5 linked regions of the Homo sapiens genome follow. The protein of the gene in region 4 interacts with the protein of the main gene of each other region in a pairwise test. Each region holds a gene or a part of one and is shown on either strand. Other genes may lie near its edges. The genes, in order: PAK1, WAS, ZNF426, RHOJ and MEOX2.

Evidence for each region.
Region 1: the proteins of RHOJ (region 4) and PAK1 interact in binary tests that used the Homo sapiens proteins (3 or more experiments, as listed by UniProt).
Region 2: the proteins of RHOJ (region 4) and WAS interact in a two-hybrid assay, tested with the Homo sapiens proteins (one study listed by BioGRID).
Region 3: the proteins of RHOJ (region 4) and ZNF426 interact in binary tests that used the Homo sapiens proteins (3 or more experiments, as listed by UniProt).
Region 5: the proteins of RHOJ (region 4) and MEOX2 interact in binary tests that used the Homo sapiens proteins (3 or more experiments, as listed by UniProt).

The regions. Positions count from the first base shown.
Region 1 is NC_000011.10:77,464,407-77,471,094, forward strand, and holds part of PAK1 (serine/threonine-protein kinase PAK 1), read right to left. Parts: intron 1-6,688. UniProt on the Homo sapiens protein: Protein kinase involved in intracellular signaling pathways downstream of integrins and receptor-type kinases that plays an important role in cytoskeleton dynamics, in cell adhesion, migration, proliferation, apoptosis, mitosis, and in vesicle-mediated transport processes.
Region 2 is NC_000023.11:48,689,363-48,695,115, reverse strand, and holds the end of WAS (actin nucleation-promoting factor WAS), read right to left. Parts: coding exon 5,682-5,753; intron 4,967-5,681; coding exon of another isoform or gene 4,647-4,966; exon of another isoform or gene 4,010-4,646; coding exon 3,954-4,009; 3' UTR 3,689-3,953; downstream 1-3,688. UniProt on the Homo sapiens protein: Effector protein for Rho-type GTPases that regulates actin filament reorganization via its interaction with the Arp2/3 complex. Important for efficient actin polymerization. Possible regulator of lymphocyte and platelet function.
Region 3 is NC_000019.10:9,525,539-9,531,687, reverse strand, and holds part of ZNF426 (zinc finger protein 426), read left to right. Parts: intron 1-620; coding exon 621-703; intron 704-2,051; coding exon 2,052-3,308; 3' UTR 3,309-6,149. UniProt on the Homo sapiens protein: May be involved in transcriptional regulation.
Region 4 is NC_000014.9:63,286,898-63,293,585, forward strand, and holds the end of RHOJ (rho-related GTP-binding protein RhoJ), read left to right. Parts: intron 1-1,290; coding exon of another isoform or gene 1,291-1,353; exon of another isoform or gene 1,354-1,420; intron 1,421-3,980; coding exon 3,981-4,127; 3' UTR 4,128-6,611; downstream 6,612-6,688.
Region 5 is NC_000007.14:15,678,637-15,685,324, forward strand, and holds part of MEOX2 (homeobox protein MOX-2), read right to left. Parts: intron 3,345-6,688; exon of another isoform or gene 278-3,344; intron 1-277. UniProt on the Homo sapiens protein: Mesodermal transcription factor that plays a key role in somitogenesis and somitogenesis and limb muscle differentiation. Required during limb development for normal appendicular muscle formation and for the normal regulation of myogenic genes.

The sequences.
Region 1 (6,688 bases), on a different chromosome or scaffold from region 4:
TGCAACTGTCCACTTGTATATCTACTTACTTTTCTCTGTATTACCCTCTGGAATGTAATCTTTGTAAGAGCAAGGACAAGGACCATGTCTGTATTATTTATGAGTGTATCCTTAGTACTAAGTACAATGCTTGGCACACAGGAAGAAATCAATAAATATGTGTAGTCTAATTAAGGAATAAATAGAAGCACTATAGAGCTGTACAGATGCTCCTTGACTTATGATTAGGTTACGACCTGATAAACCCAACTTACACTGAAATACTTTAAGTCAAAAATGCATTTAATACACCTAACATACCAAACATCGTAGCTCAGCCTACCCAACCTTAAACATACTCAGAACACTTACGTTCACCTACAGTTATGCAAAATCATCTAACACAGAGTCTATTTTTTAATAAAGTGATGAATATCTCATGTAATTTATTCAATACTGCACTGAAAGTGATTGGATGGGTATTCCAAGTATGGTTTCTACTGAATGCATATTGCTTTTACACCATCATAAAGTCGAAAAATCATTAAGTTGAACCCCTGTAAGTCAGGGACCAGCTGTATTGGATTGGTACATACATGAAAGAGTGTGTGTGTGTGTGTGTGTGTGTCTGTGTGTGTGTCTGTGTGTGTGTGAAGAATATACTCAGCAGCCATTCCTAACTGTCCTGGAACCTTTACCACATAGTCAACTAAGTCAATTATCCGGCAAGTGGCAATGGATAGTAAAAAAACGATTTTTTGAAAGAGTTAGAGGGAACTATAAATATATTTTACCATTCTCCTAGGAACCTACAATTTTTTAAAAAGTGCCACTGGTCAGGGCAGCACCCAAATGATCAGGAACAGGTGACCAGATTTGGAGACAGAAAATATGAATTAAAGATTCCAGTTTGTAACTTCCCAGCTACATAATCATGCCACTTAACTTCTGTTCATTTATAAAAATATGATGGCTAAAGAACAGAATTAAGTTAAATGAGACTCTATATAAAAGGGTTTTGAAAACAGTAAAGCACAAAAATTATATATATAATCCTATATATAATCTCTAGAAAGTCCAGGAAACTTGGACTTTTCAAGTCTATCACAATGGGCTTTCTCATTTTGCTCACCTGGTTCTTTATTTTTTTTTAAGTTACTTTACAAATTACATATGTAATTTATTAAATTAAGCAAAATCTATCCTGGATACCAAAAAAATCTCAGACTCTGGACTGGTGAGATAATTCCATATGAGAAAATAAGTGGGAGGGAATGTTATAAAATAGTAATTCTTGGCCGGGCAAAGTGGCTCATGCCTGTAATTCCAGCACGTTGGGAGGCTGAGGCGGGCAGTTCACTTGAGTCCAGCCTGGGCAACACGGCAAAACCCTGTCTCTACAAAAAATACAAAAATTAGCTGGGCTTAGTAGCATGCCCCTGTGGTCCCAGCTACTCGGAGACTAAAGTGAGACGATTGCTTGAGCCCGGGAGGGCAGCACTGCAGTGAGCTATGATGGAGCTACTGTACTCCAACCTGGATGACAGAGCAAGACCCTGTCTCAAAAAAATAAATAAATAAAATATTAATAGTAATTCTCTAACAGGTAATTGGAGAACCAAGAGCCCCTCCAACTATACCAAGTCCCTCTTTACCCATCCCCAAAACTGGCAATTTACATTTTGTTCCTGTAGCCCATTGGGAACTATTTCCATAGTGAAATACTGTTACTGATGGACTACATCCCAGTGTATCACAGAGAAAGGGTGAGGGCAGGGAGTAGGTGAGAAGGTTAAGAATCACTGTCGAAATATTCAAGCAAAGAAGTTGGCATCAAATTCAACACATTTATATGACAGCTAAGGAAAACTGAGTCTCAGGACGGTTAAGTGACTTGCTGTGGTTACACAGTAATAATTTTTAAAAATGTCTTCAAGGCCGGGCGAGGTGGCTCACGCCTGTAATCCCAGCACTTTGGGAGGCAGAAGCGGGCAGATCACAAGGTCAGGAGATTGAGACCATCCTGGCTAACACGGTGAAACCCTGTCTCTACTAAAAATACAAAAAATTAGCCGGGCATGGTGGCACGCACCTGTGGTCCCAGCTACTTGGGAGGCTGAGGCAGGGGAATGGCGTGAACCCGGGAGGCAGAGCTTGCGGTGAGCCGACATCGCATCACTGCACTCCAGCCTGGGCGACAGAGCAAGACTCCATCTCAAAAAAAAAAAAAAGTCTTCAAATGACAGCTTGATGTCTCTGCTCCTAAATTTCCTCATCTGTAAAATGAGTTAGCCAACATCAGTCTAGCACATTACAGCTTCCAAATTGTTGTGCATATATCCACAGAGCTTACCTGATTCCCTACCACACCGCAAAAGTCTAAGACGGCTATGGTGTAATAGAAAAAGCATGATGAACTAAACAATCATAAGAACCTGGCTTCAGATCTTAGCTGTGCTGTATAGCCTCAGCAAGTCAATTAACCTCTTTGTGTTTTCTTCTATCAAATGAATATAAAACAACACCTGTCCTAGCTAACCCAGGGGATTGTCCAAAGAATAAAGTCAGATAATATCAGTAAAAGTATTTTGTACATTATACAAAAGGCCCTTCATCATCTGGGCCCTGCCTCCTCTCTGCTCTCACGCCTCCCCACTTTACACCCTATCTTCTAAGCATACTAAACTACACAGGGCTCCCCAAACAGGCTCTCAAATCTTCTGCTCACATATTGCTCTCTCTTTCAAGAGGGTCCATCATCTCCCCTTTCTTCTCACCCCTCCCTGACTGTGCTTCGTTAACCCCTGATCATTTTTCAGAACCCATCTTAGATGTCACCTCCTTTAAGAATGCTTGCCAGGCCACCCCCATTTCAAGTGCAGCAGATGCCCTTCCTCTGTGTTCACATGGCACTTGCACTTATCTCCATATTTTTGTCATTTTTTGTCTCAATGTAGTGTAATTGTCTATGCACATGTCTGTTTCTCCCGGAAACTATAAACCCAAGGGTAGAGGCTATGATTCATCTGTTTATTCAGAACCTATGACAATGCCTGATGCATAATATGTATTTAGCAAATGAATGAACTTTAAATGGCAATAAAATATTACTTTTCATATAATACTTACATAAGACATTTATGCAAAACATTGTTAATATAAGGCAGTGCTTCTCAACTTTGCATATCAGAATCACCTATAAACCTTTCAAAATAGAGATGCCAAGGCAACTCTTTACATCTTCACAAGTAATTCAAGTGCATAGCCGAAATTAAAACCACTGCTACACACAATCATAGTCATAAAATTACAAACTACTCTACCTAACATCTATATAGCTCAGTATCTTACAATTCACTTTTACATATATTATTAATCTTCACAAGAATTCTGTAAGTTAGGTATTATTTCTTTCAAATGAACAAATAGAGATTTAAATAAGTGTCCAAGTAGCTCTTTGTCTAACTTCAAATTTTGTGCTCTTCCTTAAACCCTCCCTTGGTAAGTGCAGTAATACACAAATCAAGGGTTCCACCAGTGAGGAAGACATCAATCTTAGCTTTGTGGGAATCCAGGAGGAAATAAGGAAAGCTGGACCTTAAAGATATAGGCAGGCAGATGAGGGTGGAAGCCATGCATATACTGTCATTGTCATTTGCCATCCCAAAAGATTCAAAAGGCAGATTCTATAAATTAGAAAATGCTCTTGCCAGCCTCAGTTAGTACTTAACAGTCTGAAAGGGAAAGGGATATTGGAGAAGGCTGGAAGTAGAAAAGTAATAAAAGAAAGCAGCCCATAAACAAGAATGGATTTCCCAATCCTGCATGCAAATTACCTAACTCTGACTCCAGGAACAAAAGCCAAGACATAATGGACTTAAGAATTAGATGAATTCTACAGTCAATCAATACCACGAAAACTCATGAGGGATGAATGAACCTCTGGTTCTTTCTAGACTTACTACTACACTATTCCTCAAGAAGGGATAATCCGGAGAAGCCTAGCATATACATGACTTTCCCCATCTCAAAAACTAAAAGAATGGGAGAGAAGAGGAAGATATTCATGAAAGAAAAGGCTTACAAAAAGGGTAGAAAAATGTAGCACATTAAGTTAATAAATTTACGATGGCACAGGGAAATATTCAGGCACAAGTGATTCCAAATACTGGATAAAGCCTGATCTGGCAGCTTCAGTAAAGAGGTATTATCTTCTAAGTCTGCAACATCATGACCATCTGACATAGAGTTTTATCAGCAATTATCCTTTCTAGTTCAAACTGTGGACTTCAGTCAGGGTTTTCTTAGGGAGAAGAAGCTAAAGAGATTAGGAACCAATTTAAAAGAATGTGTCTAGTGCCCCAAAATTTAGTTTGATAGAGTTTAAAAGGCAATATGTTATAGTGGCAAAGTAAAGTACTACACTTAGAATTTTAAAATGTGGTTTAAAATCAATATTCAGGCATTCATTAATGATGTGCCTCTGAGCAAGCCAAGACTTCTATTAATATGATCCTCAGCCTGCTAACTCGTAAAATGGGAATACCTATCTCATAGGGCTGTTACGAAGATTGAACAAAATAACATCCAGGAAAGATGTTATTTTTCCTGTATGAATGATAAATGTAAACGAATGTAAATCTGTCTTCACCAAGCCTTCTAATACACACACAAAAAAAACATACCAAATGGAAACTTTAACTCTCACTGCAATATATTTACTTGCAAAACATTCCTATATCCTCTGTGCAGAAACATTAAAAGCAGCCTCTGTACTGAAAATAGCACATAGCTGCTGGAGTCAGGTGCACATGGACTAGAATTGTTGGTCTGCCACTTACTTGCAGCAAAACCTTAAATAAGCTCCCTTTACTAGTATGACTCTCAGGTTTCCTCACCTATGATACAGAGATACCAGCAATCATCTCATAAGGTTATTCTGAGGGTTAAAAAGAACATGTTAAACATCTCATATAGGGCCTGGTACAGAACAGGTATTCAGTAACATAAGCCATTTTTAGTAAGCTTACCACCACCTAACAACTAACAAGCAAATTATACTTTTCAAAGATTCCTTTATAGTCATTATTTTAATTGCTTCATGATCCTGTAAACTAGTCGTAGCAACTATTACTATCCCCATTTTACAGTTGGGACAAAACACAGAGATAAAAATTACTTCTACAAGGTCATGCAGTAACATAGACACTAAAGAAGGTCTCCTAACTTTTCCAGGGTTTCATTTTCACCCACTACAAATTACAACATTACCCCTTAGAAATTAAAACATCTGTGAAGAGACTTTTTTTTTTTTTTTAATAATGGGCATAGAAAATGACCCAGAAGGAGCAAACACTGGTGTGGGAGAATGTTTTTAAATTTTTTATTTTCAAGTTTGAATATACTGACTATTAATTTTGAATCAATGCATTTTTCCTTTTATTTTTAGTTGATATGTAATAATTGTACATATTTATGATATTTTGAGATGTATATAATTCGTAATAATCAAATCAGGATAATTAGCATATTCATCACTCCAAACATTTATCATTTCTTTATCATAAACAGTCAAAAGCCTCGTTTTTAGATGCATATTGTTTATCGCTTTTCAAAAATAAACAATAAACTGTAGTGAGATGTATTCTTTTGATAACCTTAAACTTGTCTCTTTACTATGCCAAAAAGAAATATTTTTCTCCCACTTTCTGGTTATTATTTAGAAAAATAACATGGAGAGGGATCAGAAAATTCATTAAAACCAGCAACAACAGAATTAATGTCTCAAATTGGCAACTGCTGATTCCACCTTGATTTTTGTTTTAGTTTTCCCCAACAAAGCCCATGACCTCTTAAAATTTTTTAAAAGTCTGCCTGTCAAAATGATGCTTGTTTGACAAATTATTCCTAAACTGAGGGAAACAAATAGAAAGGCAGCTTTCTCCCCCCCTTTATGATCATATACCACCTTTTTTCATCCCTCTATTTCATCTCTTCATTTCAGCACTTATCATGTCATATTATCTCTAGCTCCTTAAAGACTTGGGCTGCACTCTTGTATATAGCTGAACATCCTGCCCAGCACAGGGTCTGGCACATGGTGGAGAAGGACTCATAATTTTATAGTAAACGGATGAATAATTGAAGCCACTCTCCCAGAAGGAAGCTAGGAAAGGAGAAAACTGGGCATGGTATCTTAGGGCTAATAAGAAAGTGAAAGAAACAAAGCATTTTAAGAGCTTGACAAGGAAGAGAAACCTTTGTGTGGAGTCAAACAGGCCCTATATAGCTTTAAGTATCACCAGAGAAAGACAAAAACCACAGGAGACCAGGAAGAGACAGTTTTAAGTTAAAAGACTCAAAAGTTAAGAGTGCTTATTTAGACTTGCAAAACCAACTTGCAAATTCAAAAGAAACAATCCTGGCTTGGAATATTGCAACAGCAGTTTTCAGGTGGTGGTTAAAACAAACAAACGAACAAAAGACTAGGCTAAAAATTCTTGCAGGCTTTGGTTGGAGACACATAAAGGGAAAAGCTCAACCTAAAATGAATCCCCCAAAAATGTTAGGATCCCCTTGGATTTGCACATTGGACCATGATTCCTATTCATTCTGAGAACGGTTCTTGAGTAAAACCCCAATGTCGCAGCTGGCAATACATAGAATTAAATCATCTTACATTATTCATTCAACAAATACTTGAGTGCCT
Region 2 (5,753 bases), on a different chromosome or scaffold from region 4:
GCTGGTCTGAGGTTCCGTCAGCCCCAGCTTGCCCTGAGGGGACAGACAGGAGCGAAGGTCCCACCATGCATCCCCTTCCCTCCCTTACTCCTTCTCGAGCAGAGTCAGGTGCTCATCCTCATGTACCCCCAGTCTCCTCGGGCAGCAGGGCTCTCCCACTCCCGGGTGTCCAGGAGACCTGTCCAACCCACAAGAGTGATTTAAGACAGGACCTCTGCCTGTCTGGATCTGAGAGGGAGACAAAAGGGTCTGTCGCCAGTAGTGCCCCCAAACACTATAAAGTAGTGGGCAAAAGTCTGGATTCTGGAGCCTGACTACCTGGACTCATATCCAGGCTCTGCCATTTACTAAATTACTTGATCTTAGGCAGTTTCTTAAACTGGTCTGTAAAACCTGCAGTAAGTGACCTTGGGGTGGGTGTCTCCTGCTCATCTGGAAAGTGAATCATTCTGGACTAGCACTTTTTCAGGAGACCTCAAAAGTTAAGAGGCCATCTTATTGCTACCGTGTCCCACTCCCAGCCAGTTGTCTGTTCATTCAGCATTAATTTAATGATTACTGCGTTGCCCAGTGCCGGAGCCAATATAAGGTTTTATTCACAGGTTTGACCTATTGTAATGTAAACCTCAGATTGGAGTGTAACACAAATACAGAAGGGTACACAGACCAGGGGTGAACACTGTAATGAGTTTTCACAAGCAGACCTACATGTGGAACCAGAATGCAGGCTGAGCAACCATTAAGCCAGATCTCAGAAGCATTTAATTGTTTCATATAAATTTATTGGGTACAAATATAATATTTTTTTTTTGAGACAGAGTCTCACTCTGTCACCCAGGCTGGAGTGCAGTGGCGTGATTTCGGTTCACTGCAACCTCTGCCTCCCGGGTTCAAGCGATTTTCCTGCCTCTGCCTCCTGAGTAGGTGGGATTACAGGCGTGTGCCACCACACCTGGCTAATTTTTGTATTTTTAGTAGAGATGATGGGGTTTCACCACGTTGGCCAGGCAGGTCTCAAACTCCTGGCCTCCAGTGATCCACCTGCCTTGGTCTCCCAAAGTGCTCGGATTACAGACATGAGCCACCATGCCAGGCCACAAGTGTAATTTTGTTACACAGATACATTGTGTAGTGGTGAAGTCAGGCATTTTACTGTATCCATCATCTGAATAATGTACATTGGCCTCCCAAAGTGCTAGGATTACAGGCATGAGCCACAGCGCCAGGCCACAAGTGTAATTTTTTTACATGGATACGTTGTGTAGTGGTGAAGTCAGGCATTTTACTGTATCCATCAACTGAATAATGTGCATTGGCCTCCCAAAGTGCTGGGATTGCAGGCATGAGCCACAGTGCCAGGCCACAAGTGTAATTTTGTTACACGGATACATTGTGTAGTGGTGAAGTCAGGCATTTTACTGTATCCATAGCCTGAATAATGCACATTGTACTCGTTAAGTAATTTCCTCATCATCTACTTCCTTCCCACCTCCCCACCCTTCCAAGTTTCTGTTGTTTATAATTCCACATGCTATGTCCATGTGTACACATTATTTAGCTCCCACTTACAAGTGAAAAGATTCAGTATTTGTCTTTCTGTTTCTGAGTTGTTTCACTCAAATTAATGGCCTTCAGTTTCATTCATGTTGCTGCAAAAGACATGATTTCATTGTTTTTTATGGCCGAATAGTATTCCATTGTGTATACCACATTTTTTTTTTGAGACGGAGTCTCGCTCTGTTGCCCAGGCTGGAGTGTAGTAGCGTGATCTCAGCTCACCACAACTCTGCCTCTCGGGTTCAAGCAATTCCCCTGTCTCAGCCTCCTGAGTAGCTGGGACTACAGGCATGTGCCACCACGCCCGGCTAATTTTTTGTATTTTTAGTAGAGATGAGGTTTCACCATGTTAGCCAGGATGGTCTCTATTTCTTGACTTCATGATCCGCCCATCTCGGCCTCCCGAAGTGCTGGGATTACAGGCGTGAGCCACCGCGCCCGGCCAACCAGAACACTGGATTTCTAAGATTTCTGTGGGGGACTGGGAGTAGGGATAAATGATGCTGATGGATCCTTCCTAGACTCAGTGCCCATCTGGGGACCTGGTCAGGGTGGGGTGGGGAGTGGTGTTGCGGTGTAAAGAATAATGAATTAAAGGAAACCTGAGACTCCCTCCTTCTCTAGCTTGGGGGAGTTCCCCTTTCCACCTAGAAATTCTTCCGTTGCTCTTGCAGACTGAAGAAGCCTGCCCTCTCTGGAGTCTCCCTCACCTTTATCTTCCTCCCCACTACCTTTCTCTTTTTCTCCTCCTCTAAAGGTAGGATGTCTGAGATCTCGAATTCACCAGATTTCAGAAATCGGAAGGGGCAGGGAGCTCAATTCTAGGCTTTGCTGTGCAACAGTTTCTAATTATGCCCTTGGAAATAGCTGTAAACGCCAAGGACGCTTTTGAGTTACTCCTTTGTTTCTGGGAGAGCAAGTCCTGAGGAGGCAGAGAGGTGACTCAGTGGGATCCCCGTTGGAAATCAGTTACCTCCATTGTATAGATGCGGAAACCAAAGCTCAGAGGTGAGGCATCTTTCCCGGGTTCTAGAGCAGATCTGTCTGATAATTAAGTCTTTGCCTTTTCCATTGCAATTGGCCAGTGCTTGATTTGAACTGGGAACTGGGCAGAGCCAAATTTTAAAAATGAGAGGGGGATCCTGCCCATCAAGATCCTGGTGTGTGAGTTGTTATGGGCATGGAGAATGGGGAGGTCTGCTCATTGAGTATGCTGCTCTTAATCTAGTATTGTGTTGATTGAATGATTTTTTTTTTTTGAGACGGAGTCTCGCTCTGTTGCCCAGGCTAGAGTGCAGTGGCACGATCTCAGCTCACTGCAACCTCTGCCTCCCGGGTTCAAGCAGTTCTCCTGCCTCAGCCCCCATTAGGAGCTGGGATTACAGGTGTGCACCACCATACCCAGCTAATTTTTGTATTTTTTAGTAGAGACAGGGTTTCACCATGTTGCCCAGGCTGGTCTCGAACTCCTGACCTCAGGTGATCCGCCCACCTCGGCCTCCCAAAGTGCTGGAATTACAGGCATGAGCCACTGCACCCAGCCGATTGAATTATTTTTTTAAAAAATAATTAAATGCATGACATCTGGCCTCATGCCAAGCCTTTTCTCACCTCAGGGCCTTTGCACTGGCTGCTCCCTCAGCCTGGAACCCCTTTTCCCCAAATATTAACTGGGCCGACATTTCTCTCTCTTTAGGTCCAGCACCACCATCACCTACTCCAAGTGACCATCCCTGACTGCTCCATCTGAATGTTGTTTCATCTGTATCTCTGCCTTACCACTCCACAGCATTTATCATGATCTGCAGCTATCTTTTATTTCTATTTGATTTCTTGTTTCTTGTCTGTCTCTTCCCCTAGAATGTGGATTTCACCCCCTAAGGGCAGGAATTCTTGTCTGTTTTTTTTCCCACTTCTTGATTCCTAGCCCCTAAAATAGTACCTGACAATAAATGTTGAAAGACAGAGGGGCAGAAGGAAACAAAGAAATACAGGCTAAATGACTGAGGGAATAAATGAATGAATGAATATATACATGTAAGGCTAAATAAATAAAATGGGATAAATGAATAAAAGGGACTTTGGGGGAAAGGGACCCCATTCCCACATTTGGAATGTAAACAGACTGAGATTTATAGAGAGACAGAAAGACAATTCTTTTATTTTTCTTTAAAAATCCTTGAGTGAAGAGAACTGAGAATTTTTGTATAAAAAGGGCCTTGGGATTGTTGGGTGAGTGTGAGGACCAGGCAGGGATAACAGCATTGGAGGGGTTGGTGGGGAAGAAATGGGGGGTTGGGGGCCTGGAAGAGGAGAGTGGAGGGTGGGCACAGAGCAGGTGGAGGGGGAGCCATGTCCTGCGGGGAGGAGCACAGGGCAGCAAGTAACTCAGCCACTCAGTCATCCCATTCATCATCTTCATCTTCATCGCCAGCCTGGTCCTCCCCTTCGTCTGGAGGGAAAGAGAAAGATAAGATGCCCTGGGAGGTTGGTGGGGGGCTTCATAGGGCCTGGGAGGTGAGGACTGGACCCTGGGGTTCTGAGGTCTCATGCTAGAGGAGGGCAAGTTAGAGTTTCCATTTGGGACAAGAAAGGGATTATAGTTGGGGTCTGAGTTCTAGTTGGAGTTGAAGTTTATGCTGTCAAAAATGTGGTTAGTCGAGATATTGTCAAACAAAGGGTTAATGTTAACCTATTTATCACATAATAGGGTGAATTTAAATAATATTAGCAAAGGTGTGATAATATATTATTGCTTCCTGTCTGGTTAACGCTAATATTTTTGACACATAATGGGGTTAATGACAATAACATCAAAATTAGCTGGGCGTAGTGGCGTGCCTGTAGTCCCAGCTACTCGGAAGGCTGAGGCAGGAGAATCGCTTGAACCCAGGAGGCAGAGTCTGCAGTTAGCCAAGATCGCGCCACTGCACTCCAGCCTGGGTGACAGAGCAAGACTCCGTCTCAAAAGAAAAAAAAAATCATTGTCGAAAGATGAAGTTCCTATAGTAGGTTGATACTAATATTTGCATCATATAATGGATTAGTGACAGTATTGCTGACAGATTAAGAGAGTAATAGTAACATTATTATAAAAAGATTAGGTTAACAGCCAGGCCTGGTGGCTCATGCCTGTAATCCCAGCACTCTGGGAGGCTGAGGCGGGGCAGATCGCTTGAGCCCTGGAGTTGCAGAGCAGCCTGGGCAACATGAGAGTAGTGAGAGCTTGGTAGTGAGAGCTCATCACTACCAAAAAAACACCAAAAATTAGCCAGGTATGGTGGCACACGCCTGTAGTCCCAGCTACTTTGGGAGCTGAGGCGGGAGGATCGCTTGAGCCTGGGAGGTTGAGGCTGCACTGAGCCATGATTGCACCACTGTACTCCAGCCTGGGACACAGAGCGAGACCCTGTTTCAAAAAAATTTTTTAAAAGATTAGATTAGGTTACGTCATAATGAATTAATGTAAATCTGTTAATACATGGAATTAAAATTAATATTGTCAACAATAGTGTTCTTCATAATATTGTCATCACATAATGGGTTAATTTTTTTTTTTTTTGAGATAGGATCTCTGTCACCCAGGCTGGAGTGCAGTGGCACAATCATGGATCACTGCTGCCTTGACCTCCCAGGGTCAAGCAATCCTCCCACCTCAGCCTCCCAAGTAGCTGGGACCACAGGCACACACCACTATGCTTGACTACTTTTTTTGAATTTAGTTTTTATGGAAACGAGGTCTCACTATATTGCCCAGGCTGGTCTCGAACTCCTGGGCTCAAGTGATCCTCCTGCCTTAGCCTCCCAAAGTTCCTGGATTACAGGCATGAGCCACCGCGCCGGCCAGCTGATGTTAATAGTACTGAACATGTGGGAATGACATTAATATTGTGGACACACCCTGGCATTAATGTTAATATTACTGTCAAAGTTGGAGTTAATTATATTATTGTCACATAATGACTTAATGTTAACATTGTCAAAAACGAGGCTGACACAAGATTCATGTTAATGCTGTCAAACAGATGGGGCTGATGTCACTATTGGTGGTGACTGCTGGGATTGTTTTGAGGCCAGTGCTAGCCCTGGGAGCCAGGTTTGAGGCCCCGGCAGGATCAGCTCACCGGAGGAGTGGATGGCTCTGCTTCTCTTCTGCATCACGTGCATCAGGGCCCCCACCAGTCCCTCTGAGCTCT
Region 3 (6,149 bases), on a different chromosome or scaffold from region 4:
ATATACGCTCTTTTTTCAGAAATTTCCTACTTTCATTCCCTGATTCTCTCTATTCACTATCAGTTTTAATTTTCATAGCATCAATTTGTAATAAACGATCGAAAAGTTTTACCCCATGTCCTTGTCTTGGCCAATTTTTCCCCCTTTGGATCATTTACATCAAAACCAAATTTTTGATATAGCCCAAATCCCCAAATGTCTTTCTGCTTTTTCTTGCCATGTTTAATTTGAAACAAATAGAAATAAGCCATATTGTTTTGAACTCTTTGCATTTCTTTCTCCAAATCCTTTCATTTGTTCTTGTTGTGGTTCACTCTGTTTGTTGCCAAGGCTGGAGTGCAGTGGTGTGATCTGAGCTCCTTACAACCTCTGCCTCCTGGATTCAAGAGATTCTCCAGCCTGAGCCCCGTGAGTAGCTGGGATTGCAGGTGCTCACCACCACACCCAGCTAGCTTTTGAATTTTTAGTAGAGGTGGGGTTTTGCCATGTTGGCCAGGCTGGTCTCAAACTCCTGACCTCAAGTGATCCACCTGCCTTAGCCTCCCAAAGTGCTGGGATTACAGGCATGAGCCACTGTGCCTAGCTTGAGTCCTTTTATTTGTTTGTCTGTTTTATTTCAGGATGGGAAATGCGACTTGAAACCCAGTGGTCTATACTTCAGCAGGACTTTTTGAGGGGTCAGACATCCATTGGGATACAATTGGTAAGATTTGCATAGGATATTTTTTATTTTCCACCCTCAGAGAAAATCAGGAATTCTGTTATGGGAAGTCAGCAAAAATAAGAGATATTTGAGAGAAGTTGCATACACATGAGAGGGAGCAAAGAATTTAGGGATGCTCCAATTGTGAAACTTGTTTCTTTGGAGCTTTCACACATTCCCACAAGTGTAACTAGACGTTGAGTTTTGTTTTGGTGTTTTTTTGAAACGAGATACTGCTCTGTCACCCAGGCTGGAGTGCAGTGGTGCAATCATGGCTCAGTATAGTCTTGACCTCCTGGGCTCAGGCGATCCTCCCACCTCAGCCTCCCTTGGTAGCTGGGACTACAGGCATGCACCACCACACCCAGCTAATTCTTCAAAATTTTGTGGAGACAGGGTCTTACTGTGTTTCCCAGGCTAGTCTCAAACTCCTGTGCTCAAGTGATCCTCTGCCTCAGTTTACAAAAGTGCTGGGAGTACAGGCATGAGCCACCACATCTGGCTTAGACTATGAATTTTTTTTTTTTGGTCGAGACAAGGTCTTGCTGTGTCACCCAGGCTGGATTGCAGTGGCACAAACATGGCTCACTGAAGCCTTGACCCCTTGGCTCAAGTGATCCTCCCACCTCAGCCTCCTATGTGGTTGGGACTACAGGAACACACCACCATGCCCAGCTAATTTTTTGATATTTTTTATAGAGATGGAGTTTTGCCATGTTGCCCAGGCTGGTCTCTAATTCCTGGGTTCAAATGATCCACCCACCTTTGCCTCCCAAAATGCTGGGATTACAAATGTGAGCTACTGCACCCATCTAGACATTGAATTCTACAGAAATCTGTTATTATTATTATTATTATTATTTTGAGACGGAGTCTCGCTTTGTTGCCCAGGCTAGAGTGCAGTGGTGTGATCTTGGGTCACTGCAACCTCCGCCTCCCAGGTTCAAGCGATTCTTGTGTCTCAGCCTCCCAAGTAGCTGGGATTACAGGCATGTGCCACCAAGCCCAGCTAATTTTTGTATTTTTAGTAGAGACAGGGTTTCACCATGTTGGCCATGCTGGTCTTGAACTCCTGACCTCAGGTGATCTGCCCCCCATCGGACTCCCAAAGTGCTGGGATTACAGGCATGAGACACCATGCCTAGCCAAGATTAAAGTAGATGGCACAACATTCTAGAATAAGAGTTAAGTCATACCACTTAAAATAAATCTACAGGGAAGGACCTGAATGCATGTAATAAAAATGGCATCAATTATAATCACCATTATAATGTTTCTAGCTTCAGATGGGTATGTTCTGTTAATATGTTTGAGAAAAATCCTTAAATCATCATCATCCCTTCAACAGGAAGGAAAACACAATGGAAGGGAACTCTGTGACTGTGAGCAATGTGGAGAAGTCTTCAGTGAACACTCATGCCTTAAGACGCACGTGAGAACTCAAAGTACAGGGAACACTCATGACTGTAATCAGTATGGAAAAGATTTCCTTACCCTGTGTGAGAAAACCTCTACTGGTGAGAAACTTTCTGAGTTTAATCAGAGTGAAAAAATCTTCAGCCTGACACCAAATATTGTATACCAGAGAACTAGCACACAAGAAAAGTCATTTGAATGTAGTCACTGTGGAAAATCCTTCATTAATGAGTCATACCTTCAGGCACATATGAGAACTCACAATGGAGAAAAACTCTACGAATGGAGGAATTATGGGCCAGGTTTTATTGACTCTACAAGCCTTTCTGTGCTTATAGAAACCCTCAATGCAAAAAAGCCCTACAAATGTAAGGAATGTGGAAAAGGCTATAGATACCCAGCCTACCTCAGTATTCACATGCGAACCCACACTGGGGAGAAACCATATGAATGTAAGGAATGTGGGAAAGCCTTCAATTATTCCAACTCATTTCAGATACATGGAAGAACTCACACTGGAGAGAAACCCTATGTATGTAAGGAATGTGGGAAAGCCTTCACTCAGTACTCGGGCCTTAGTATGCATGTACGATCTCACAGTGGAGACAAGCCCTATGAATGTAAGGAATGTGGGAAATCCTTCCTTACATCCTCACGCCTTATTCAACATATAAGAACTCACACTGGAGAGAAGCCTTTTGTATGTGTTGAATGTGGGAAAGCCTTTGCAGTTTCCTCAAATCTTAGTGGACATTTGAGAACTCACACTGAAGAGAAGGCCTGTGAGTGTAAGATATGTGGGAAAGTATTTGGGTATCCCTCATGTCTTAATAATCACATGCGAACGCACAGTGCCCAGAAACCATACACCTGTAAGGAATGTGGGAAGGCTTTTAACTATTCCACCCACCTTAAAATTCACATGCGAATCCACACTGGAGAAAAACCCTATGAGTGTAAACAATGTGGAAAGGCCTTCAGTCATTCCAGTTCATTTCAAATACATGAAAGGACTCACACTGGAGAGAAACCCTATGAATGCAAGGAGTGTGGGAAAGCCTTCACGTGTTCCAGTTCCTTTAGAATTCATGAAAAAACTCACACAGAAGAGAAACCCTATAAATGTCAGCAATGCGGGAAAGCTTACAGTCATCCCCGTTCACTTCGAAGACATGAACAAATTCACTAGTGAGAAACTGTCCATGTAATAAATGTGGGAAAGCTCTCATTTGTTCCAGTTCACTTTAAAGACATGAATGAACTCACTCTGGAGAGAAGAAGCTGCATGAAAATTACTTAATTCCTGTAATCCCAGCATTTTGAGAGGCTGAGGTGGGTGGATCACTTGAGGTCAGGAGTTTGAGACCACCCTGGCCAACATGGTGAAACCTTGTCTCTACTGAAAATACAAAAAATTTAGCCAGGTGTGGTGGGCACCTGTAATCCCAGCTACTTGGGAGGCTGAGGCAAGTGAATCACTTGAACCCAGGAAGCAGAGGTTGCAGTGAGCAGAGATCATGCCACTGCACTCCAGCCTGGGCGATGGAGTGAGACTCCATCTCAAAAAAAAAAAAAAAAGAAAATTATTTGATTAAATTGAGTCTGTTAGAGTACATCCCTAATCCAATATGATTGGTGTCCCTATAAGAAGAGAAAGACACAACTGAGACAACAAATAGAAGATGATGTGAAGTCATCAGATGATGGCCATCTGCAAGCCAAAGACAGAGCACTGGGACAGATCCTTCTATCAAAGCCACCAACCCTGCTGGCACCTTCATCTTGGGCTTCCAGAACTTTGAACAAATAAAATTCTCTTGTTTGAGCCACCCAGTCTGTGGTATTTTGTTGTGGTGGCTCTAGCAAGTGAATACAGTAAGCAATAAGCAAAAACGTTTATAGATTGTCCAAAAGCCTTAATATTCACATGCAAAGCCACACTGGAGAGAAACTATATGAATGTAAGACGTGGGAGAGCCTTCATTGAGTCTTCAGTCCTTTCTACATACAGGAGAAATCACATAGGAGAGAAATTGTATGAATGTAAGGAGCATGAAAAAGCCTGTGAATGTTCACTATATTTTAATATTCACATGCAAGTTGTCTGGTCGTAGACCATGTGAAAATAGAGGAGAAAAAAGGAAAGAAAGTTTCTTTTACTGTGAACGCAAGGAATGTGACCCCATACACCATACTGGAACTTGGAGTGGACTGAAATCCCATTAGGATTGTGGAAAAGCTTACATTAATGTTTTCTACCTTCTAGAAGGTGTAAGAAGTCGAACTGGAGAGAAGCCTTTTACCTGTAATGCATGTAGGAAGCCTTACATTAATTCCACAGAATTTTTTTTACACATGTAAAATTACCTCAGAACCCTGGGAAGGTAAGGAATATGGTATAACCTTTAAATATTTCACATGCCATAATAAGTACATGAATTCTGATAATACTGTACCGTTTCTTGAGTAGTGTTAGTACCTTATACTATCAAAATAATCCTAAATCCTCCCTCTCAGACCTTCCATCATTACTATATTTCACTTTTATGCCTATAAACACACACAAATTAGCATATGTAATCTAATACATTGTAGCTATTTTTCAGAAGTTATCAGATCAATTAAGTATTAGAAAAATAAACATTTTTATTTTACCTTCACTTCTTCCTTCTATGCTCAAAGTTGGATGTAATTCTTATACTTGATCCTCAATACTTAAAGCATTTCCCCCCCTCTGGCTTCTATGAAAATTTTTTGTTATCTTTGATATTCTGTTATTTTTAAATGATATGCCTAGGTATAGGTTTTTGGTGCTCGTCCTTCTTGGTGTTTGCTTAGCCTCCTGGATTTGCGTTTTGGTGTCTGAGTTAATTTTGAGAAATTCTGTCATTGTTTCCCTTTTTTTTTCTTTCCATCTGGTATTTCCTTTATATGTAGGATACATCTTTTGTAGTTATCCCACAGTTCTTATATCTTGTTTTTTTATTCTTCTCTTTGCTTTTCAGGTGTGGATGTTTCTGCTGATATATTCTCAAGCTCTTTAGTTGGCTGTTTCTTGGCCAATAATAAGCCTACCAAAGACATTCTTCATTTCTGTTACACTGTCTTCAATTTCTAGCATTTCTTTGTGGTTCTTAGAATTTCCATCTCTGTGTTTACACTGCCTGTCTGTTCTTGGATGCTGTCTGCTTTATCCAGTAGAACCCATGGCATATCAATCATAATTGTTTTAAATTCCCAGTCTGATAATTTCAGCAATCCTGCTATATCTGGTTCTGGTTCTTACTCTTTCTCTTTAAACTAACTTTTGCCTTTTAGTATGCTTGTAATTTTTCCTTAGCTGGACATGGCATACTGGATAAGAGGAAATGCTGTAAGCAGGCCTCTAGTAATCATGATAAGCTGTGGGGAGAGGGGCAGCATTCTATTGTCCAGGGATTAGATGTCAGTCTTGCAGTGAGTCTGTGCTTCTGCACTGTGAACTTCAGTTTTTCCCACCCTTTAGTTGGGTCAGGATGTATAGAGTTGGCTGGAGTTGGATATTTCCCTTCCTCCAGGTCACTGAAGCTCTGACTAAAACTCCAGGTGTGGTGGCTTATGCCTGTAATACCAGCACTTTGGGAGGCCAAGGCAGGTGGATCACCTGAGGTTGGGAGTTCATGACCAGCCTGAATTGCTTGAATCCAGGAGGTGGAGGTCACAGTGAGCCGAGATTGTGATACTGCACTCCAGCCTGGGAAACAGTGAGACACTGTCTCAAAAAAATAAATAAATAAATAAAAGGCTAGGCGCAGTGGCTCAACCCTGTAATCCCAGCACTTTGGGAGGCAGAGGTGGGTGGATCATGAGGTCAGGAGATCGAGACCATCCTGGCCAACATGGTGAAACCCCGTCTCTACTAAAAATACAAAAAAATTAGCTGGGTGTGGTGGCGGGCACCTGTAGTCCCAGCTACTTGGGAGGCTGAGGCAGGAGAATGGTGTGAACCCAGGAGGTGGAGCTTGCAGTGAGCCGAGATCACGCCACTGCA
Region 4 (6,688 bases):
ACTTGTTGAGATGGCGGCTTTTCTCTTACAACCTGTTTGGTTCTTTTTCTTTTTCTTGGCTCTCTATTTGCCTTCTCTGTGTGCCTTTGCTAATTCTCAAATGAGGAATACAGAACTACTCTGCTACTAGCCATTTCTTTAGATACGAGCTTACTCTGTTTATTCCACTAACATCTTCTCTTCTTTTCTCTCCATTTACAGGACATGCCTTCCTTCTTCTTCCCTTCTCTCATCACCTTTACTATATCCGTAACAGCTTTGCCCATTTATTCATTAATTTTGCTCTTTCAGCCACAATTTCATGACATTTGCTAGAGACAGCCCAAAAGAGTAGTTAAGACTTTGGCTCAGGAGGCAGACAAATTCGAATCTCTGCCATTTTCTTAGTTGTGTGGCCATAAGGGAGGTTACTTAGCCTCTCTGGGTATCAGTTTCCTGAGCTGTGAAATGAGGATGGTGACAGATTTTTCCTTGTAAAGTTCTTGTGACAATGAAATTAGCTCATGTACCACAAGGTCCAGCTCAGCAAACTATAGTTGCTGTTAAATCCATGAGCCCTCTCAGACATGTCTACAGCTGGGAAGATCTCTTTGCCTTTATCCCTTCCAGTTACTTTCTATCTTATTCTATAACTTGTCCTGCCCCAACTAGAACAACATGGAAGAAGTACTAGGTTTTCTTTTACTTGATTAGTCATTACGGTTTTTTTTTTTTTTTCTTATCACTCTTGTATCTTCTGTACATCGCTGATAAATGTCCCTGCTTTTGAGATAATAAGTTTTAGCTATTATAAAACAATAAGAAAAGTGTTTTTTCAGTTTACACCCTCAATCTCTACTTTTTTCTTGAAAATAAGTCATTTGGGTAGAACACATTCCAGTTTGCTTGCATGTGTATCTAAACAAGGAGGCTTGAATCCTGAACCCTCCCAGATGGCTTCTAAATACTTGACTGTGTAGGTCATTTTGCTCCAAGGAGCAGATGAAGTTGCTGCTGTAATAAGGGCCACATTTCCTTGAGACAATTTTTCATTTCACATCTTTGAGGACACAGATCATTTTTTTTAGCAATCTGGCTGTGCTTTTTCCTTGAACCGGGATGAATTCTTCTCCGACCCTCATAGCACTTGACACATGGTAACAATACCTACCTCATAACTGGATTGTTTCTCACACGTGTTTCCCAAATGACACCAATAATCTGATGACTACTTTTTCTATCAGTACAACATAATGTCATATTAACTCAGTTACACAATAATGCCTTTATCTGCTATTTCATTATCTTCAGAAATGTCTGAATTGGAAGAGACAAGCTTGGGCTCCTCCCGCTCCATCGAAAGGCAAAGCCTGACATGCTGTCAGCTGCACACTGGGGGCAGGAGGATGGGGAGTGCCCTGCCCCTCCTGCAGGACTCCAGGTGTGAGTGAGCTCAGCCCAGCTGTCCTGGAATTCCAGGCAGAATCAATCCTAGGCTTGGGATCCTTAGTGGAGAGGTATTCCAGATAGAAAGGTGCTACAGCAGTTTCTAGGTATTTTCCAGACAAGTGCCACCACGTTACAGTCAAGTCATTCAGAATCATTCAGTTGGCAACGCTGTTGCCATTAGATTAATGTGCTTTTCACATGTGTTTGAATCAAGCATTGAACACAGTCCCAAAATGCAATAGAAGGCATTTCATTATGTTATTAGGAAAATTTTCTCTGCGCTTTATTCCTCTCTTGTATCTAACTGTTTTTAATTATTTAAAAAAGTTATTTTCTAATCTGAAAACCAAACCATGGTCAAAATGAAAGCCATAAAATAGATTTTCAACATCCAACATCGTTTTCTTTTGGTATTTTCCCTTGGCTCATTCAGTAACCATTCTTGTCAGGAAAAAAATGAAAAATGCATAATCTCTGTCGGAGAGTTTAGGAAATAGTGTCTGGGCCCAACCAAAACCACTTTATTTGATGGTTAGTTTTCATATTTGTGGCCTTTGAAATAAGTGGACAATCTCATTTCATTAACTGTCAACTTGACCAGCTTCTTGCAGAGCTGAGTGATAGGGGTCACAGTTACTGCCACAGAGCAAGGAAATGAACATGTATCAAGAGACCCAGATTCTGGGTCTATTTCTTTCACTTTCTAGGTGAGTGCCCATAAGCAATTCATTTTACCTCTCTGGGGTTATTCCCGCTCTGTTCTAAGCTAAACCACAAGTTCACTTAGTCCACACATTGCAAACTGGCTGGCTGCTGCCAAATATATCCCACATCAGTGTCTTGCTTGGCCCATGGTAAATAGTTCATAAACTGGTAAATATTAAATAAAAAATCCAAATGTCCAACTCCTCTTGAAAAATACAAAAATGGGCAATAGTAAACCAACATTACCACTTGGAAGCTGATAAGACTGCACACCCTAGAGGGGGCATGTGCTTTACAGCCCACCATAGTCCCCTCCTCTCCCTATTGTCTTGCGCCAGCCCCACTTTATCATTTACATAAGCTATTGGGCATAATAGGCCTATGATTTTGCTACCTTGTTTTAGCCATTTGTCTGCTGTAGTTTCCAGGAACTCGCCATTTAGCCAACCTCTTCTGAATCTGCTTTAATTTTTCAAAGTGATTCTTAAAATGCGAATCAAAAACTAAAGTCATTTCTCCAGATGTCCTTAATAGTAAAAGGCCAACATCACATCATTGACTCTTCCTGAGCTTATGAACAAATAAAACCGCAGGTCTCCTTCACAAGAAGCTGACTGCTAAATATGGTCTGCCCTGGTCTGTGATTTTTAAATGAGAATCTATAGTTCTGGCCTGAATTTCTATATTTCTCATGAGAGGTTTGTGATTATCAAACACACCATAGTATGAAATCATCAGAATATTTAAAATGAAGCCCTATGCAAGTATGAAATACCTTATCATTTAAATATATAGACTGTACACTGACAGGATGTCTCTGGCATTAAATGTCTTTTATGATTATCGTTACATGTTTTATTGTTATTGTTACATGTTTTAGTGGGTTTTTTTTTTAACTTTTTAAAAAATATGCCTTTTAAAGTGTGTTAAGGCTGGCTGCAGTGGCTCATGCCTGTAATCCCAGCATTTTTGGAGGCTGAGGCGGGCGCATCACATGAGGTCAGGAGTTCAAGACCAGACTGGCCAACATGGGAAAACCCCGTCTCTACTAAAAATACAAAAACTAACCCGGCTTGGTGGCACACGCCTGTAATCCCAGCTACTTGAGACGCTGAGGCAGGAGAATCACTTGAGCCCAGGAGGCAGAGGTTGCAGAGTTAAGATGGTGCCACTGCACTCCAGCCTGGGCAACAAGAGCGAAATCCATCTCAAAAATAAATAAATAAAGTATGTTAAAACTAAATAATAATGCCAATTGGATATTACCTTGTTGAGGGATACCTTAAAAGAGGTACATTTTAATCAAGAATGACCTATAAAACCATATCATTCACTCTCTTTCTATCTGCTTTATCAACCAAGCTGACACTTTGCCTTTTATCATACCAAAGAAGATACATTTCACTTGTACATGATTTACACATTCTGCCTACAAATGAGAGGATATGAAAAACAAGATCATGCACCCCTGTTCTTCACAAAACATATTTAAATTATATCATTGGTTTTGAATTGTCTCCTAATTTTTTAGATCTTTGCATTTTTTATGTTCTTAGGAATAAATGGCTATGGGTCAATTTTAGGATTTACTGCTTTCCAGAAGTAATCCACAACCATTTATTGCAAATAAAGGAAAGTAAAAAATACAAAAATACAAAAAAAAAAAAATAGGATAGCAGATACAAATTGAAATGGAAAAAAAAAAAAAAAGACAAACATAATCCAAACCACCCCACAGGCTGTTTGTAGGACAGGCAGAAGTAAGTGCTTGTCTGGGCAGTGAGTTGATACCACTGTGCTTTTCTCTCTTTTTTATCTCTCATGCCTTTCTCTCTTTTGTGTTTAAGATCGGAGCACAGTGCTACTTGGAATGTTCAGCTCTGACTCAGAAAGGTCTCAAAGCGGTTTTTGATGAAGCAATCCTCACCATTTTCCACCCCAAGAAAAAGAAGAAACGCTGTTCTGAGGGTCACAGCTGCTGTTCAATTATCTGAGGTTGTCTGGGACCTGCCTCCACCCCATCCAGGGATGAGAATGGCAGCCAATCTCTGTGGCCAAGCTCCAGCCAAAAAGGAGGGCACGACCAGAAAGGAACTCCCTTTGCACGGAGGCTTGCCCCATCACCCTCTGAGCCCTCCCAACACAGCACACTAGTCAGCCCACTGCCACGACCTCCCTGCCAGCCAGAAGCATCCGTACTGCACGCTGTCTGAGAATGCTGGGCCTGGATTGCAGACAGTGCCGCTGCTGATCGCATCAAAAACAAAGTCAAAGGCCATCTCACATTTTACAAATCCCCAGCTCATGAACGTGAAGCTGATAGGAAATCACCCCAGGGAACCCGAAAAAGAAACTTGATTCCTCTATTGCTGGCCTTACTTGATGTCTTTTATAAAACTTGGGACTACAATACTAACCTTTTTTTCTGAATCTGCTGTTCTACCCATGTGTCTCACATTCATTTGTATTATTTCAAGAAATGTACTAATTTCCAGTTCACTCAGGCCTTACTAATCCATACCAAATTAGCCTAAAGACAAGGCATTTTATATTCATTTCTATTTTCAGCATGTTTCTACCAAAGCTATTAGAACCAACACGTACCTCTGAATGCCCGATTATAAGAAGACATGAGAAGACTTTAAAAGTTTTGGAAATTTACAGAGCCATGATTTTTGAACCTAATTGAAAGAAAACCATCTGAATTGTTGCAGGTCCACATTTTTGCCAAAGATACACTCTATAGATGCTTAGTAGTGGCCTGATTTTTTTCCATGTATTGCCACGACAAACTAAAAATGAACTGTGTTTAAGAATGTAGTATTTCTGTTTTTCATCCAAGTTGATTGGGGGAAGAATATGGCAGGATCCATCTTTTACAGTATTTTGTATTCAGTAAAGTGGACATTCCTGCTCCTCCCTTCCCCCATTGCATGCCCTCTTCCTCCCTTGATTTCACTTTCTCTCATGCCCGGATCCTTTTATTCTCCCCAGTTATAACCCAGTTATAAAAGAAAGATCTGAGCATAAAGATACGTGTTTAAAAATAACTAAAAGTAAAGGAAAGTGCCTTAATTTTTCTATTTGCTTCAACTGAAAGTGCTTCTCAGCTCGCCCCATGTAAGTTCTCATTCCATGTAAATGACATTTTCCAGTTACAACTGGTACTGAGATTTTGCCTCTCTCTTTCCTTACTCATCCTCCCAAATGTCTTTGTGGGAGCCATATCAGTGGATACCAAGCTCTGTATCCATTTGTCCCCTGCCCTCCACAATGTGTGACATAGAACAGGGACTTTGGCCCTGGGAAAGCAAAAGCTCCCAGTAAGGAATCCTGTGCCCAATGATGTAAAACAATTCCAAACATCCAGGAATTTTTGTATCATAGAGCGAATTACTTCCTATCTTTTCATTAGAGGCTATGAGGACTTCTAATTAGTCTTAGTTGCTTATAAGTGCCCTGGAATCACCCAGGTAGGCACTTAATTTTTTTTTCAGTTGCATGAGCAAAGTGCTTCTTAGTAGTGTGAAATTACAACAACTTTAAGACTTTCCAGATTCAAGCTCCCACTGTTGGAAAAAGCCAGCCTTTCTAATCTCTTCTGCTACTGGAATAAGCACTTAAGAATTGCGTGATAGCCAGGCACCGTGGCTCATGCCTGTAATCCCAACACTTAGGGAGGCTGAGGTGGGTGGGCCGCTTGAGCTCAGGAGTTCAAGACCAGCCTGGGTAATATAGTGAGATCCTGTGTCTCTATAAAAAAATTAAAAATTAGTCAGTTGTAGTGACACATACCTGTAGTCCCAGCTACTCAGGAGGCTGAGGTGGAAGGATCACTTGAGCCCAGAAGGTAAGGCTGCAGTGAGCTGTGACTGTGCCACTACACTCCAGCCTGAGTGACAGAGAAAGAACCTGTCAAAAAAAAAAAAAAAACAACCTACATTTCAAGTACTATTTCCCTTCTCTCCCATCTAATTGCTAAAGATTTTCTTTCATACGCACACACTCCAGTGACTGGAAAAACGGGAGTTTTCAGTCAAAGCTTGACATTTAGAGAAAACAAGGACTTTCTGCCTTTATAAATGGAAATCAACTGTGTATGAACTATAACTCTGCAGAGGTTATGAATTCATCCTTTACAAACAATAATGAACTTTTAGTCCTGTAATAAATGAAATGTTATTAGGCAGCTTTGTTGCATGATTGCATAGTTATATCTTGCTAACGGGCCACTCATTTCTCACTGATGTGGATGAAAAAATGAGAGCAGTATGTTTCCAGGTGTGTGCACTCAACAGGCAAATAGCTCCCGAGGTCACCACTTCCCTAATGGGCCACAGGAAGTAAGTTGATCTTGATGGGGAGATCACGTCACCCAGAACCAGCAACTGGATAGAGACTGTTGTTAGTGTCTGGGTAGAGCACAGGCTCCCAGGGGTCTTAAGAGCTAATTACTGAATAAAACAATCTAGAACAAAGCAACCTAAATAAGTTGATGTCATTCTGCCAAATTAATCAGTTATTCCTTGTTTCACGGCAAGATCCAGTTTGTTTC
Region 5 (6,688 bases), on a different chromosome or scaffold from region 4:
AAGCTACCTCAACAGACTCTGAATATATTTCACTACTGCATTTGCAAATAACTATCACTTTGCAAAAATAAGTTTTCATTTGGGTGTCATTTCTGGCAAAAATTTAAGGCTATATTTTCAAAGAGTAAAATTCTAGGCCTTTAAAATTCTACTGGCATCTGCCAACCTAAGCTGGACCCTCCTCTAGGTTTTGCGGAGCCTGACAGATGATTTCACCTTAGTCATTTTCTTGCCCACAGTCACGTAAGATAACTGCGAATTTGTTTTTTCCTTGTAGCATTATGGGATTCTCTTGAAGTGTGTGAAGAATAATGAGCTAAATAAAGAGGAAAAACAAAAGAAAACAAAAACTGCAGGGACTTTTATAACTATCATTGATTGCCAGCTTAAGCCTGCTGGACTCTTCACAAAACTATATATGCTTCAAGCTTAATATTTAATTTTGTAATTGGAACATTTATAATCATATTATGCATTTAATAAGGATGCTCTAATTCAGATTTACTATTATCAGGAAATTAAATTTGGAGTTACAGTAATGCATGCATATATATGTGTGGGTGTGAGTGTGCATATACCTATATATGTATATACATATATAAAGTAAACGCCTTCTTTTAACGTGTGTTTTAAGTATAGCTTCCATGTCCTAGTTAATTCAGCACCCTCCCTTTTATCCTTTCCTTGCCATTGTCCTCTCTACTAGACTACAATAAAAACAAAAAACTATGAAAGTAAGCAGCTTATAATCATAATTTTAATCAATGTAGCCTATGCAAGCTTTAAGAAACATACGTCTAACATCTTAGAAAGAAAGCTTATGAACACAAACAGCAGAATACTTAAATACATTTGAAACATTCACATTGAATTGATTCTACAAAATTTTGAAGAGCAACAGCTTTTGAATTTAGAGCTATAATCAGTACCCTAAAGTTTTTACCACTGAGTTACTACCTAGTAAAAATATGTTATATTTGCAATAAAAGTACACATTGTAAGGACATAAGAATTGTCATCAAGGTACACAAACATTTTAGAATTATTAAACATTTAAATAAATGGAAATTTTAAAAATAAAATAACAATATTATCATACAAGTTAATGATCCAGTTTATTAATTTCTAATTCTATTGATAAAACAAGGGATTATTTTTGAAAGGGTTTTTCTATCTTTCATACAAACCCTTTCCAAAAATGTATAGATACAGTACGGATTCTACCTGATCATTCTTGTGCATATGGTGATGTAAGAAACCAAAAAAATGTAAATTATTTTCATAACACTGTGAAAACCAATATTTAAAAATACAGTGCACAATTAGTAGTGAGTAACATATATAAATTTAGAAATATTATATTTCTGTACACAAAGTAACATTATAAATGAAAGCTTCAGGAATAATGAGCTACTTATTATTCCGGAAATTATATATCAAAAATTTCAAATATAGAGGAAAATTAAAAACCCACTCATGACCCATGAAAATTAATAACCCATTCGATCATACACTTACCATGTAACTTTCTGTTAATTTGGTAATAAATAATGTCAAGAGATTTTAAATGAAAATACTTATTCTGAAACATAAAAACAACATCTGAGATGAGCACAAATGGATCAATAGATACATTATTGATTATTTTGTATCATAAAATACTATCTAGTACAACATTCTTTAAAAAATTCAATATTTTTATAATGTAAGTAAAACGGGAAGAACTGTTAGAGAAATGGGCATCAGATTTAGATTAATTCTGCCTCTAACGCAAATTGTAGGCTGAGCCCTATATGTTCTTGACCATTCTAAGTTTTACTACATTAAAACACATAAAATATTCTGCGAGGTTTTCTCCAATGGGATTTTGAATCTCACTGATGACTGTGATTTAGGAGTAATGTAGAGAGTTTTGCAACTAACTTTACTTTACACCGTTACTCCTTTTCTACTTGGGGGTTCAGTTCAACACGCTAGTAAAAGAAATAGTCATGAGAGCATCCTAAGGAAAGTAGGCAAAATGTTAGTGCCTCATTATATTTACAATCTTTACAAAACATGTATGTCAGTAAACCATATTAACATCTAAAGCACATGATATGTAGAAACAAATTGTGACTACAAAATGTGTCTTGTTTCTTAAATATGCTAAATAGGAAATAAATCACATCTACTTCAATTTTTAATCTGTGGACTTTGGCCTTAGTTTGTGTTTTATTTTATTTTTTTGCTTTTGATTTTAACCACTGAAATCATTTACCAATACTATAAGCCAGGAAATACAATGTAACTGGCCAGTTGAGAATTAAGCCTTCTCTTTTTATTATTACAATCAAGGGGGGAAATGCTTATATATCTTCCTGCACAAAATGTTTCATTTATCAAAAAAAAAAGTGAGAAAAATAAAGAAAATTTGGGTGAGATAAATAATCCACAACTATTAATTCAACAGATATTATTTAAGAAATTCCTACCTGTAATTTATTTTCTAATATTTCTGCATCCTTAGTATTTATCGCTCAAAGATATTTGCAGCCCTCATAGCAGTGCTTGGAAAAGAGATTTGCTCTGAAAATTTAGAAATAAATTCCTGAGGTGAATACAGTTCAAAACTAAAATATATTGCTGTATTATATTGGTTTTTCTCATTTGAAATTAAAATCTAAAAAACCTTCATATTAGGTTGTGTGTGTCAAGCTGCCATTATAAAAACACTAAATGAATAAAATTTCGCAAGCAAGGCAGCATTATCAGGCTAAGTACATGTAGTGGGCTTATATATGGTGATGTTTTACATAATTCAGCTATTAATTCATCTATAGATTTACATTTCTTAAGTGCAAAAAAAAATGTAATTATTTCATTACATATGGAATTCACCTCCCAAATTTCTCAGAATCTAAGAGAAAGGATTGACATTTTCTGATATTTCATTTTTGCTTAAAATTAAGTTCTTAGGATGTTTAGATTTTATTATAAATATTACAACTTAAATTCCAGAGTTATAATGAACGGTCTATGTTTTGAAACACAGAGGGAGAATGGGGTAATGACTGAAGTACTGTTTTTTCAGTTTATTAGTAAAGATCAGCTTATAAGATGTCATTGTAAAGGTTTCTATTGATAATTACCATAAACAAAGATTAAAACTTTAAATACTAAGTTCTGGATTTCTAAGCCCGGTGAAAGTTTGTGCAATACCATGCCTTGCATTTATGATTTTTCTTTTAAAATGAACTATAAATGAAGAAATTTACACAGAATTGGAAACTATTCCTACTTTTATTTGCATTCTTCCTTCCATTCATTGCTAATGTTCAACAATAAAGCATTTTAATTCTAAAGGAATTGTTGCTTTTAACTTGAGTGTGATTATTTTAGATCACATTTTAGAGCCCTCATGTAGGTCAATGATACTTAGAATTTTTTATGTCAGATTACCATTTTTAAATGTTCACACCTAAAATTAGTCTACCAGTCCAAGATAAAGAATGGAAGTTTTTTTTTGTACTCCATTTGATTTGTTCAATACTTCACTTTAATCTTCAAGATCCAGTATATTATTTTTTAAATTCTAAAGCAAATGCTGAAAAGCCACAATCCAGTAACACAGAAATGAATAATAACACTAATTTATTCCTTTCAGAAAACACAATGATTGAAATATCTTGGAAATATTACAATATCATACTGAATGAGGTTGATAAGGTATTACTCTGAGTTTAAGTTCCAACTTATTAAATGTAATATTTGCTAGTCATTCTGCATAGTCAAGCATATAGACAGACATAATTTGACAGCAAAGGTTTTATGACATAGTAGCTATAAATAAAATATTTGTAATTTTACAAGAATCTAATATGATTCAAAACCTAGTAAAGTCTACCTCCCCAAATCGCTCTTTTCTTTTTTGATGTAATTTCTATTTTTTATAAAATATGTATCATAAATTTGAATAGAAAATATCTAGATATGTACACTGTATAACCATGCACAAAAGCTAAAGTTCGATCAATGAATTAATTTTAGTTATTTTAACTAAAACTGGGCAGTTTATTCCTACTACTAGATTGCTCAAAGAGCAACCAAATGTAATTGAAGCCAAGCAATTCACACTATTTATAGACATTTTTCAGAATCACCTGCTTTGTAGTGATTTTTTTCAGCAGTTGTAAAGTTTTGATTTTTAAGAGTCCCTTTGAAGACGTGGCAGATGTTGGCTTTGCTAATAATGCTGGAAAGCGTAGCAGGTTCAAAGTTACAAAAATGTTTAACACATATAAAATATAATGGTGTGTTTTTCTATTAAATTTGGTTATTTTCAATTGTCAATAAACTTACATAAAGGAAGCCTAAAGTCCATAAATATTTGCTTCCAAAACATGAAGCTGCTAGAGTTTGCATATGTGTGTGTCCATGTGCATTTGTGGAGGGAAAGTGCATAAAATATATGCTAGAGAAGCTTACGTATTATAGTTTTAAATCGTTACTATGAATAAAATTGTAAGGTTTATAAATATTTAAGCTGTTTTTCAATACTTTCTGGTGCTTAAAATTCTATTAGAATTTAACACGGTAATTAGAATTAGCACATACACATACAGTCTAAGTATTAGATGCAGGGATACAGAATTTTGGTCCTGACTTTACCCTGGATTTATGTACTGAATTTTCTCTCAACCATAAATGCAAAGTAATTATAAACTACCTAACAAAATACAAATGATCTCACTATATAGGATGACATTTTTATCTAATACAATTTTAAATTTCAGGAGTTCCGAAATCACTTCAATTTTATATTTTAGAAATATTGAAATACTAAAATGTGCTATAAGCAATGAGAGATATACGTATTAATAGCATACCAGGATCATAATCATTTTCAATATTGTTTTAGTTTGTGCTAGATCAAGATGTCTATGAAATAAAATATCTTTGAAGATAATTTATGGAACACCTAATGCAATTGTTACACGAGAAAGATATCTTTAATTTAAATCTATCTCAATATCTGACAAATATACCTTCAGCTGAAATTGGCAAATAAAATTTTATTTTCAATAAGTGTACATAGATTTAAACAGAAACTATTGTGATTTTCCTTTTAGTCAATATTTCTTCAACATATCAAAGGAAAGAAAAGCTCATTCTAAATCCCCAGTATTTTTATCCTTGGTGATGACTAATTGTACTTTCCACTGAAGTTTTAATCTGTTAATAATTTATGTAGCTGACACAAACACTTATATTTGCTTGTTTTTCCAGTACCCTCATTATCAGCTTCAAAATGTAGAAATGAATTTAATTTTGTTAAATGGTTATTTCCCACTAAGTTGGGGGGGAGAGATAAATTAGTTTTGTTAAATTATTCCATTTTTTAAAAAAATTATTAAAATAAATTAAGGGAATCAGTTATTGAATTCCGTTTTCTCAGTTTTCCCCAAACAAAATAACATGTGCTTGTATGAAAATTGTTTGCCCTGAGAAACTTAAGGGCAATGGCTCAGTTCAGGAAGCATGAAGAACAATCTATCATGTAGGTTTCTCATTGCAAGAAATAAAATGAACCGTAAGAGCTTATGGGAATTGCAAGAGTACGCTCATCAACCCGAACTGGGATCTGCTTCCAAAGTTACACTGATATCAAATGTTCAGTTTATGAAATTGTCACTGCATTCTAAAATCGACTGTTTTTCTAATAAAAATTGAAACCTTTTTGCTATGATTAACCTTTCAACTCACTATCTAAAGAGAGTTTCACTTATAGTTAGGAAAATACATTAAATATCAGTGACACTACTGGTAATTTTCTTATAAAAACTAATTTGTGATGGAACATTAAAAGTTCACCCCCTGACCTTGGAAAATAAAAGTTAGCTTTTGAGACCGTGAGAGAAGAATCCATCCTATAGTAACGCTGAAGAACAATTGATATTGCTGTGAATGGTGAAGGAATATTAAATATGCGGCCAATCATTTTCATTTATGTGGCATCTTACCTAAAGCTTTACACACGATCAACATTTTTCCAATCCTTCAAACCAACATATGGGATTACCTTCTAGGACTATTATTAACCCAATTCCACAGAGGAAGAAAAATATGCAAATATTATATTAAACAAATGACACCTTCCAAAAGTATTTAATCCAGGTTGCACTATACCCACGAAAGAAAACTCACAAGTCTCTTAATTTTAAAGTATCTTTTAACAATTTTATAAAAATACAGGTAGGTAAGAGCTTTGAAAACTTGTCTGGAAACTTTGAGTTTCTCTGGATTGCTACAATTTATTCGGCACGTTGTGCCTTCAAGCACCAGAGGTCAGGAAGGTTCCCCTTTTGCATGGCTGCTCAAATTATCCCCACTGAAATCAGCGCCTCCTGCGCGCACCCTTGCATACCCCTTTAGACACGTATCTAACTAACAGTACCCGAGTTGCTGTTGCTTCGCAGTATTTGTCTCTACTAATACCCACTTGGTAGAGGGATTTATTTTCCACTTTTGAAACTTAGGTTCTGTAATTAGCTTACACCACATGGACATGTACTATTAAGGTTCGTCTTTCTTCCAGTGTGAGCATCTATTTATTTACAATTCTCTGACACATTCCTTAAAATCTGAATTCCTAGATAATGTCTTCTTCCCCAATAAAGGGAAAATTTTACCATTTGAAATAGGGTGC